Homo sapiens: one gene and its partner. The protein of the gene in region 1 interacts with the protein of each later gene in a pairwise test. Each region holds a gene or a part of one and is shown on either strand. Other genes may lie near its edges. The genes, in order: SLC37A3 and ZNF177.

Region 1 (3,825 bases):
GCACCTGCCACCACATCCAGCTAATTTTCGTATTTTTAGTAGAGACAGGGTTTCACCATGTTGGCCAGGCTGGTCTCGAACTCCTGACCTCAAGTGATCTGCCCACCTCGGTCTCCCAAAGTGCTGGGATAACAGGCATGAGCCACCGCGCCCGGCCCCCAGTTTTCAATCTTTCGGGAAATACCTAGGAGTGCTGGGTCATATGGTAATTCTATTTAAATTTTTTGGAAGAAGCACCAAAGTATTTTTCACAGAAGCTGCATCATTTTGCATTCCCACCAGCAATGCAGGGCTCCAATTTCTGCACATCCTTGCCAGCACCAGTCACCTTTCCTGTTTGTTTTTTTTTTTGAGATGGAGTCTCACTCTGTCACCCAGGCTGGAGTGCAGTGGCACAATCTCAGCTCACTGCAAGCTCCACCTCCCGGGTTCACGCCATTCTCCTGCCTCAGCCTCCCAAGTAGCTGGGACCACAGGCACCCGCCACAACGCCCAGCCAATTTTTCTTGTATTTTTAGTAGAGACGGGGTTTCACCGTGTTAGCCAGGAGGGTCTCCATCTCCTGACCTCGTGATCCGCCCGCCTCGGCCTCCCAGAGTGCTGGGATTACAGGCTTAAGCCACCGCGCCCGGCCCTTTCCTGTTTTTTAATTACAGCCATCGTAGTAAGCATGAAGTCACAGCTCACTGTGTTTTTGATTTGCATTTTCCCAATGACTAAGGATGCTGAGACTCTTCATGTGCTTATTGGTCATTTGTACATATTTGTCATGAAGATTTGTCCCTGTTTTCTTCTATGAGTTTCATAATTTTAAGTTCTTCAAGTTAGGCCTTTAATCCATTTTGAGGTAATTTTTGCATATGAGGTAAGGTTAGGGTCCAACCTCATTCTTTTTTTTTTTTTTCTTTCCTCTCCCACTCCTCAGCTCCAACTTCATTCTTTTCACGTGGATATCCAGTTTTCCCAATACTATTTATTGAGAGACCATCCTTTCCCCATTGAATGGTCCTGGCACCCTTGTCAAAAATCAATTTGGCCGCAGACACAAAAGGGTAGCATTCTTCAATCACATTATTACTGAAATGTACAAGTGAAAAAAATTAATGCAGAACGACTATGTGATTTATATTAGATCACATCATGTGTAGCAAAAAAGCAGAGGTCTCATCATCCACTACAGGAAGCATGGGGGGCTCCAAACTGACTGCAACTTTGTCTTTTTTTTTTTTTTTAGACAGGGTCTTGTCCAGGCAAGTGGCTCATGCCTGTAATCCTAGCACTTTGGGAGGCTGAGGCAGGAGGATCACTTGAGCCCAGGAGTTTGAGACCAGTCTGGGCAATGTGGTGAAACCCTGTCTCTACAAAAAAAATACAAAAATTAGCTGGGCATGGTGGTGGGTACCTGCAGTCCAAGCTACTTGGGAGGCTGCAGTGGGAAAATTGCTTGAGTCCCAGAAGGCAGAGGTTGCAGTGAGCCAAGATCCTGCCACTGCACTCCAGCCTGGGCATAAGAGCCAGATGCTGTCTCAAAAAAAAAAAATAGAGAGAGAGAGCCAGGGTCTGGCTCTGTCACCCAGGCTGGACTGGAGTGGTGTGATCATGGCTCACTGCAGCCTTGACTTCCCAGGCTCAAGCGATCCTCCTGTCTCAGCCTCCTAAGTAGTTGGGACAGGCACATACCACCATGCTCAGCTAACTTTTTATTTTTTGTAGAGATGAGGGTCTCACTATGTTGCTTGGGCTGGTCTTGAACTCTTGGCCTCAAGTAATTCTCCTGCCTTGGCCTCCCGAAGTGCTGGGATTACTGGCATGAGCCACCACACCTAGCCTCATGTACAAGTTTTAATGTGGACATTTGTTCTCATTTCTCTTGGGCAGATACTGCAATTTAATCTTACTGAACCCCTAGTATGTGTCAACAAAAGCACTAAGCATTGGGAATACAAAGACGAAGGAAACAAGCAGAGCACCTGTCACGGTGCATCACCTTTACACCGTGACAGGTGCCTACTACAGAACCGCATCAACTGCTATGGCAACCTGAAGAAGAAACAATTCTTTACTTGGGAAGTCAGGGAAAGACGGGGTAACAAAGTTATTCAGGGTAAATTAGTACACTGGCTAAGGACAGAGCTGATAGAGGTTAACGCTAAGTCACAGAGTTTGGGATTTCACCCCTTAGGCAATGGGAAATCATTCAAAACTCAACATGGAAGAGGAATGAGTAAAGCTAACAGTGATTTACTCCAGACGTGCTTCCCCAACCATGAAGGTCAGTCTAGGACCCAAGTTCACAGTGAGGGATCTGGATACTGGCAGGTGAGGCAATCTGAATAAAAGCAAATTCTCTGAAATACTCATTATAATGCACCCATTTAGTTAGTGAAGAAAACATTCGTAAGGAAGGATAACTTAAAATAATATAATGTCAGAAAAGGATGCCCAATGCAGCCACTCTCTACCCCATAGGTGAAGACGTCTGAACTGATGGCTGGGAGCATTTTTCGATTCCCGCTCCAGGGCATGATCAGGTAAGCGTATTTTTCAAGGCTTTGCTAAGGTTTTTGTTTCTTTGGGGTTTTTTGCCCTTTAGTCTTATAATCAAATATGCCAAGCATATCAGTCATTCATTCCACAAGTAATGTCTACTGTGTGCCAGGCACTGTTCTAGGTACTAAGGTGACAGAAGAACATACAACAAAATGCTGCGCTCAGGAAGCTTATGTTACAGTGGGAGAGACAGACATTAACAAGTGCATATAGACTATTAAAATACGGCTAGGTAGTCAAAGTATTAACATGGCTTACTTTACCTCAATACTTATCTCTCATTAACCACTAGCAATCAGACATCAGCAATTCACCCCCATCAAGCAAGTAACAATAATCTTCAAGGTTATTAATGACCTCCTAGATGTCAAAACTAAGAGCCTAAAAGACAAATCCTTCAGTTCTCTTTCTCCTGACCTCTCTACATCCATGACCTTACTAACGCCTTCTCAAACGCAGTTCCCTTGACTACAGGTTACTCTGCTGCCTTCCTCTTTCTTTGACCACTGGGCATTCCCTGAGACTCGGCCAACATTCTCTTTCCCTATTAAATGTTTCATTCACTTCCACAGGTTCAACTATTTTTATCCATACAGATGACTCTCAGATCCATCTTTCTACAAAATTAGTACTCTACAATCTGTAGTGGTATATCCTAGAAGAGGCATGACTCATGACTCTGCCAGAAAAGAAATATCTGTCCCAGAGAAAGTTGAATTTATGCAAAAAAAAAAAAGGTCAATGTAAATAATTCTAAGTATAGTAGGCCAATCTTAGTGTAGGGATCTCAAACATCTGAGTGTGGAAGAATCACCAAGAAGCCTTGTTGAAAATACAGATCTGTAGGTTCGAACTCAGCAAGTCTGTAGTATGCTTGGTGTTCTGTACTTTAATGAGTGTCCCAGATGATTCTGATACCAGACACTTATGGGCCACTCTTTGAGATACAGTCAGAGATTTTTGGATACACAGGAAGCAGAGCGAGTGATTCAGAAGCAGCTGCAGAGTCCATGGCCATGTCTGGCGGGGCCCAGGAAGGAACGTGTATGCAGTAGAGTGTCTGGGAGAGGGAGACGGGAGACAGCAATGGTGGGGTCCACATGCCAGGTGGGGATAACAAGAAGCACCCCCCACCACGGAATACCAAGTTCAGCCTGGAAAGAAAGAAGGGGATGGTGGGCTGGGGCAGAAGGATCTGTCTGTCTTACGAGGTCTTAGCTTATTTGCAGACAGGAAGAATCTAGAAGTATAAGTAGAAAAAAGGAACTAAAAACA
Region 2 (3,825 bases), on another chromosome or scaffold:
TCTAATGAAATAACATAGAGCTAGTTTATCTTAATCTACCAGGACAGTCTGTTTTTAAACTGCAGAATTTAGCCCATCTGTACACTTACTGTTATTGATACAGTCAGACATTTTTTACCATCTTACATTTTACATTGTGCTTTTCATTTGACCTATTTTTTTTGTTTCATTTCCCTTATTTTTCTTACCTTTGGAATTGAGATTTTTTTTTAACCTAATTCCATTTTCTCTTCTAGACTGTGAGTTAAACTCACTATGTCCATCCTTTGAATTGTTACCCTAGCTATTTTATCATGCATACTTACAGTCTAAACCTAATCAATATTGTGAGTCCCCAGTGGAAGAATACAAGGAACATACTACTCAATCACCTCCTTCCCAATTTATATATTATTTAGTATTAGGATTGAGCTTATTTTTCCATGTCACGAATTTGGTATTATTACCATTTTATATAATAAAGGTTTGCTTAATTTTATCCATTTTACCTTTGTTCATTCTACTTAACATTTTGGGTCTTCCAGTTCCTATCTCCTGAAGTACTTTTAAGTTACTTCTGTGATGGTCTTTTTGGATGGGTAAGTTGTCTCAGGTCTTTATTTTAAAATGCCTTTATTTGACTCTCCATTTATTTTTCTTAAGCTTTTAATCATGAAAATTTTTAATTCTCCACAAAAGTAGAATAGTACAGTTGTCTCTCATATCCATGGGGGACTGGTTCCAGGACCCCCACATGGCTTCCAAATTCCACAGTCACAAATTCCTTATATAAAATAGCATTGTATTTGCATAGAACCTACACACATCCTCCCATAGATGCTATTTTTTCCCTCCCATTTACTTTAAGTCATCACTAGATTACTTACAGTACCTAGTACAATAAGTGTTATGTAAGTGGTTGGTTTGTTTTTTTTTTGTTTTTTTTTTAAGAGATGGGGTCTCATTCTGTTGCTCAGGCTGGAGTACAGTGGTGTGATCATAGCTCACTGCAGCCTGAAACTCCTGGACTCAAGTAATCCTCCCACCTCAGCCTCCCTAGTAGCTGGGACCACAGGCATGCGCCACCACGCCTGGATAATTTAAAATAGATACATATTTTTGTAGAGACAGGGTGCTGCTTTATTGCCCAGGCTAGTCTCAAACTCCTGGCTTCAAGGCATCCTCCTGCCCCAGCTTTCCAAAGTGCTGGGATTACTGGTGTGAGCCACTGTGCCGGGCCATAAATAGTTATGCTGTATTGTTTAAGGAATAATGACAAGGGGGAAGGTCTACATGTTCAGTACAGACACAAGCATTCATCTTTTTTCCACATATTTTTGATCTGTGGTCGAGTAGCCAACAGATACAGAGGGCTGACTGTATAATGAATTCTCATGTCCTTAACACCCAGCTTTGACAGTTACCAATATTTTGCACATCTTGCATCATCTAGCGCTGAGCTGTCCAATACAGTAGCCACTAGCCTCATGTGGCTATTGAAGTTTAAATGCTCATTTCAAGTATTCAGTAGCTATCCGTACATGATTAGTGGTTACTGTATTAGATACTGCAAATAAATATTGAATAATGCTGGGTTTTCCCCCCAGATTTGTTTTTAAAGCAAATTCCAGACATCCTGTCATTTCATCAGTATATTACTAACTGTGCATCTCTAGTTGGTTCATCACCACTACTCCATTATCCCACCTAACAAAGTCTGACGTTCCCTGATTGGCTACAGAATATCTTTTTACATTTGGTTTGTTCAAATGAGAATCTTAACAGGGTCCCAACATTTTTTTTTTATTTTAGACCCCTTAAGTTTCTATTGTGTCTGTTCTCTTCCTCCTCCCTTTTCATTTTTTTAATCCACTGATTTATTGAAGAAATAAAGTTATTTGTTCTTAAAATGTCCCACATCATATATGGATTTTGCTGACTGGTTTGTTTTCATTGCTTAACCTGGTTATCTTTGTATTTCTTATAAAGAGTAGTTAGATAGTTTGTCTAGCGTTTTAGGTTGATAAGTTATTTTTTTCTCAGCATACTGAAGACATTGTCCTGCTTTCTTCTGACGTCCATTGTTGCTGTTGAGATGTCAGCTATCAGTCTGTTTTTCCTTTTATAGGTGACCTGTGTTTTTCCCCTGGCTGCTTTGGAAATTATGGGAAAAAATCAAATACCAAGGAAGAAAAATCTATAATGAAATTAGATGTGGATTTCTTTTTATGTATTCAGCTTGGGGGCTTATGATACTTCTAGTACCCAAAGGTTAGTGTCTTTCACTAATTCAAGAAAATTGCTAGGTTTTCATCTAATAGTGCGATCAAAGTTCTGATCTGGTAGTTAATACTGGCACTGAATTTCTCATTTCAGTGAGTTTATTTTTCATTTCTAAAAATTGTTTTTTAAACTAACCATTTTATAGTATCTTAATCTATATCCATTCAAATTTTTATTAAGCTTTTATATATTTTAAAATATATCTAAAAGGGTAATATCCAAAGTGTTATGCTTTTTACCACCTGACACCTGTGTGTTAGCTATGTCTTACACATGGTACATTGTGTATTTGTGTTTCACAATTTCTTAAACTGTGCCTTCCTCAATTTACTTAGAACTTTGTATATAAGATTTTTTCTCAAGACCTGACTTAAAGTTGATTTTCCAGAGATAGGTCGATTTGCTTGCACTAGTTGCTTGGGGACAATGCCACTTAGGACCCTCTTTAAGTGAAATTATTCCCTTGAGGTTGTTTGAACTACAGAAATGAATTTGGACTGAAATCTAAAAGAGAGCACTTGTGTATACAGATCCTCAAGAGAGATTTGCTTTTTATTATACCTGATGGGTACAGTTCCTTGCTTCACGCTTTCATATGGAAATTTTACTTTCTTTTTAAAAAACTGTTCACTGTGGATTTTCAGTCATACCTAGGAATAGAGTGCTATAAAGCCACTATGTACCTACCACCCAGCTTCAATGATTGTCACCATTTTGCCATTCTTATTACATCTGTTCTCTCCCTTGCTTCCTTTCATCATTGAGCTTTCTTTTCCTTTTTTTTTTTTTTTTTTTTTTTTGAGATGGAGTCTTGCTCTGTCTCCCAGGCTGAGGTGCAGTGGCATGACCTCAGCTCACTGCAACTTCTGCCTCCCAGGTTCAAGCAATTCTCCTGCCTCCCCTCCCGAGTAGCTGGGATTACAGGCACCTGCCACCACACCTGGCTAATTTTTGTATTTTTAATAGAGAAAGGGTTTCACCATGTTGTTCAGGCTGGTCTTGAACCTCCTGACCTCAAGCAATCCACCCACCTTGGCCTCCCAAAGTGCTGAGATGACAGGCGTGAGCCACCACACCCTGCCAGTTTTGTTTTTCTGAAGCATGGTTTTCCAGCTTTCTTGAGGTATAATTGACAAATAATAAAAATTATATATGTTTAAGGTGTACAACATAATGTTTTGATCTACCTGTCCATTCTGAAATGATCATCACAGTCAAGCTAATTAACATATCCATCCCCTCACTTACTTTTGTAAGATGCACTCTCTTGGAAAATTTCAAATATACAGTACATCATTAACTATAGTCACCAAGCCATACATCAGGTCTCCAAAACTCAGCCATCTTATAACAGCAAATACATACCCATTGACCAACATCTCCCCATTTCCCTTGCCCCTTGGTAATCACCTTTCTAATGCTTCTAGGAGTTTGACTTTTCTAGATTCCATGTAAGTGAGGTCATGCGGTATTTGTCTATGTCCGCCTTATTTTACTTAGCATGATGTTCTCCAGGTTTCCTTCTTTTTTAAGACTGAATAACCCACTGTGTGTATATATATG

The links.
Region 2: the proteins of SLC37A3 (region 1) and ZNF177 interact in a two-hybrid assay, tested with the Homo sapiens proteins (one large-scale study listed by BioGRID and IntAct).

Annotation. Positions count from the first base shown.
Region 1 is NC_000007.14:140,339,404-140,343,228, forward strand, and holds part of SLC37A3 (sugar phosphate exchanger 3), read right to left. Parts: intron 1-3,825. UniProt on the Homo sapiens protein: Unlike the other SLC37 members, lacks glucose-6-phosphate antiporter activity.
Region 2 is NC_000019.10:9,369,503-9,373,327, forward strand, and holds part of ZNF177 (zinc finger protein 177), read left to right. Parts: intron 1-2,107; exon of another isoform or gene 2,108-2,250; intron 2,251-3,825. UniProt on the Homo sapiens protein: May be involved in transcriptional regulation.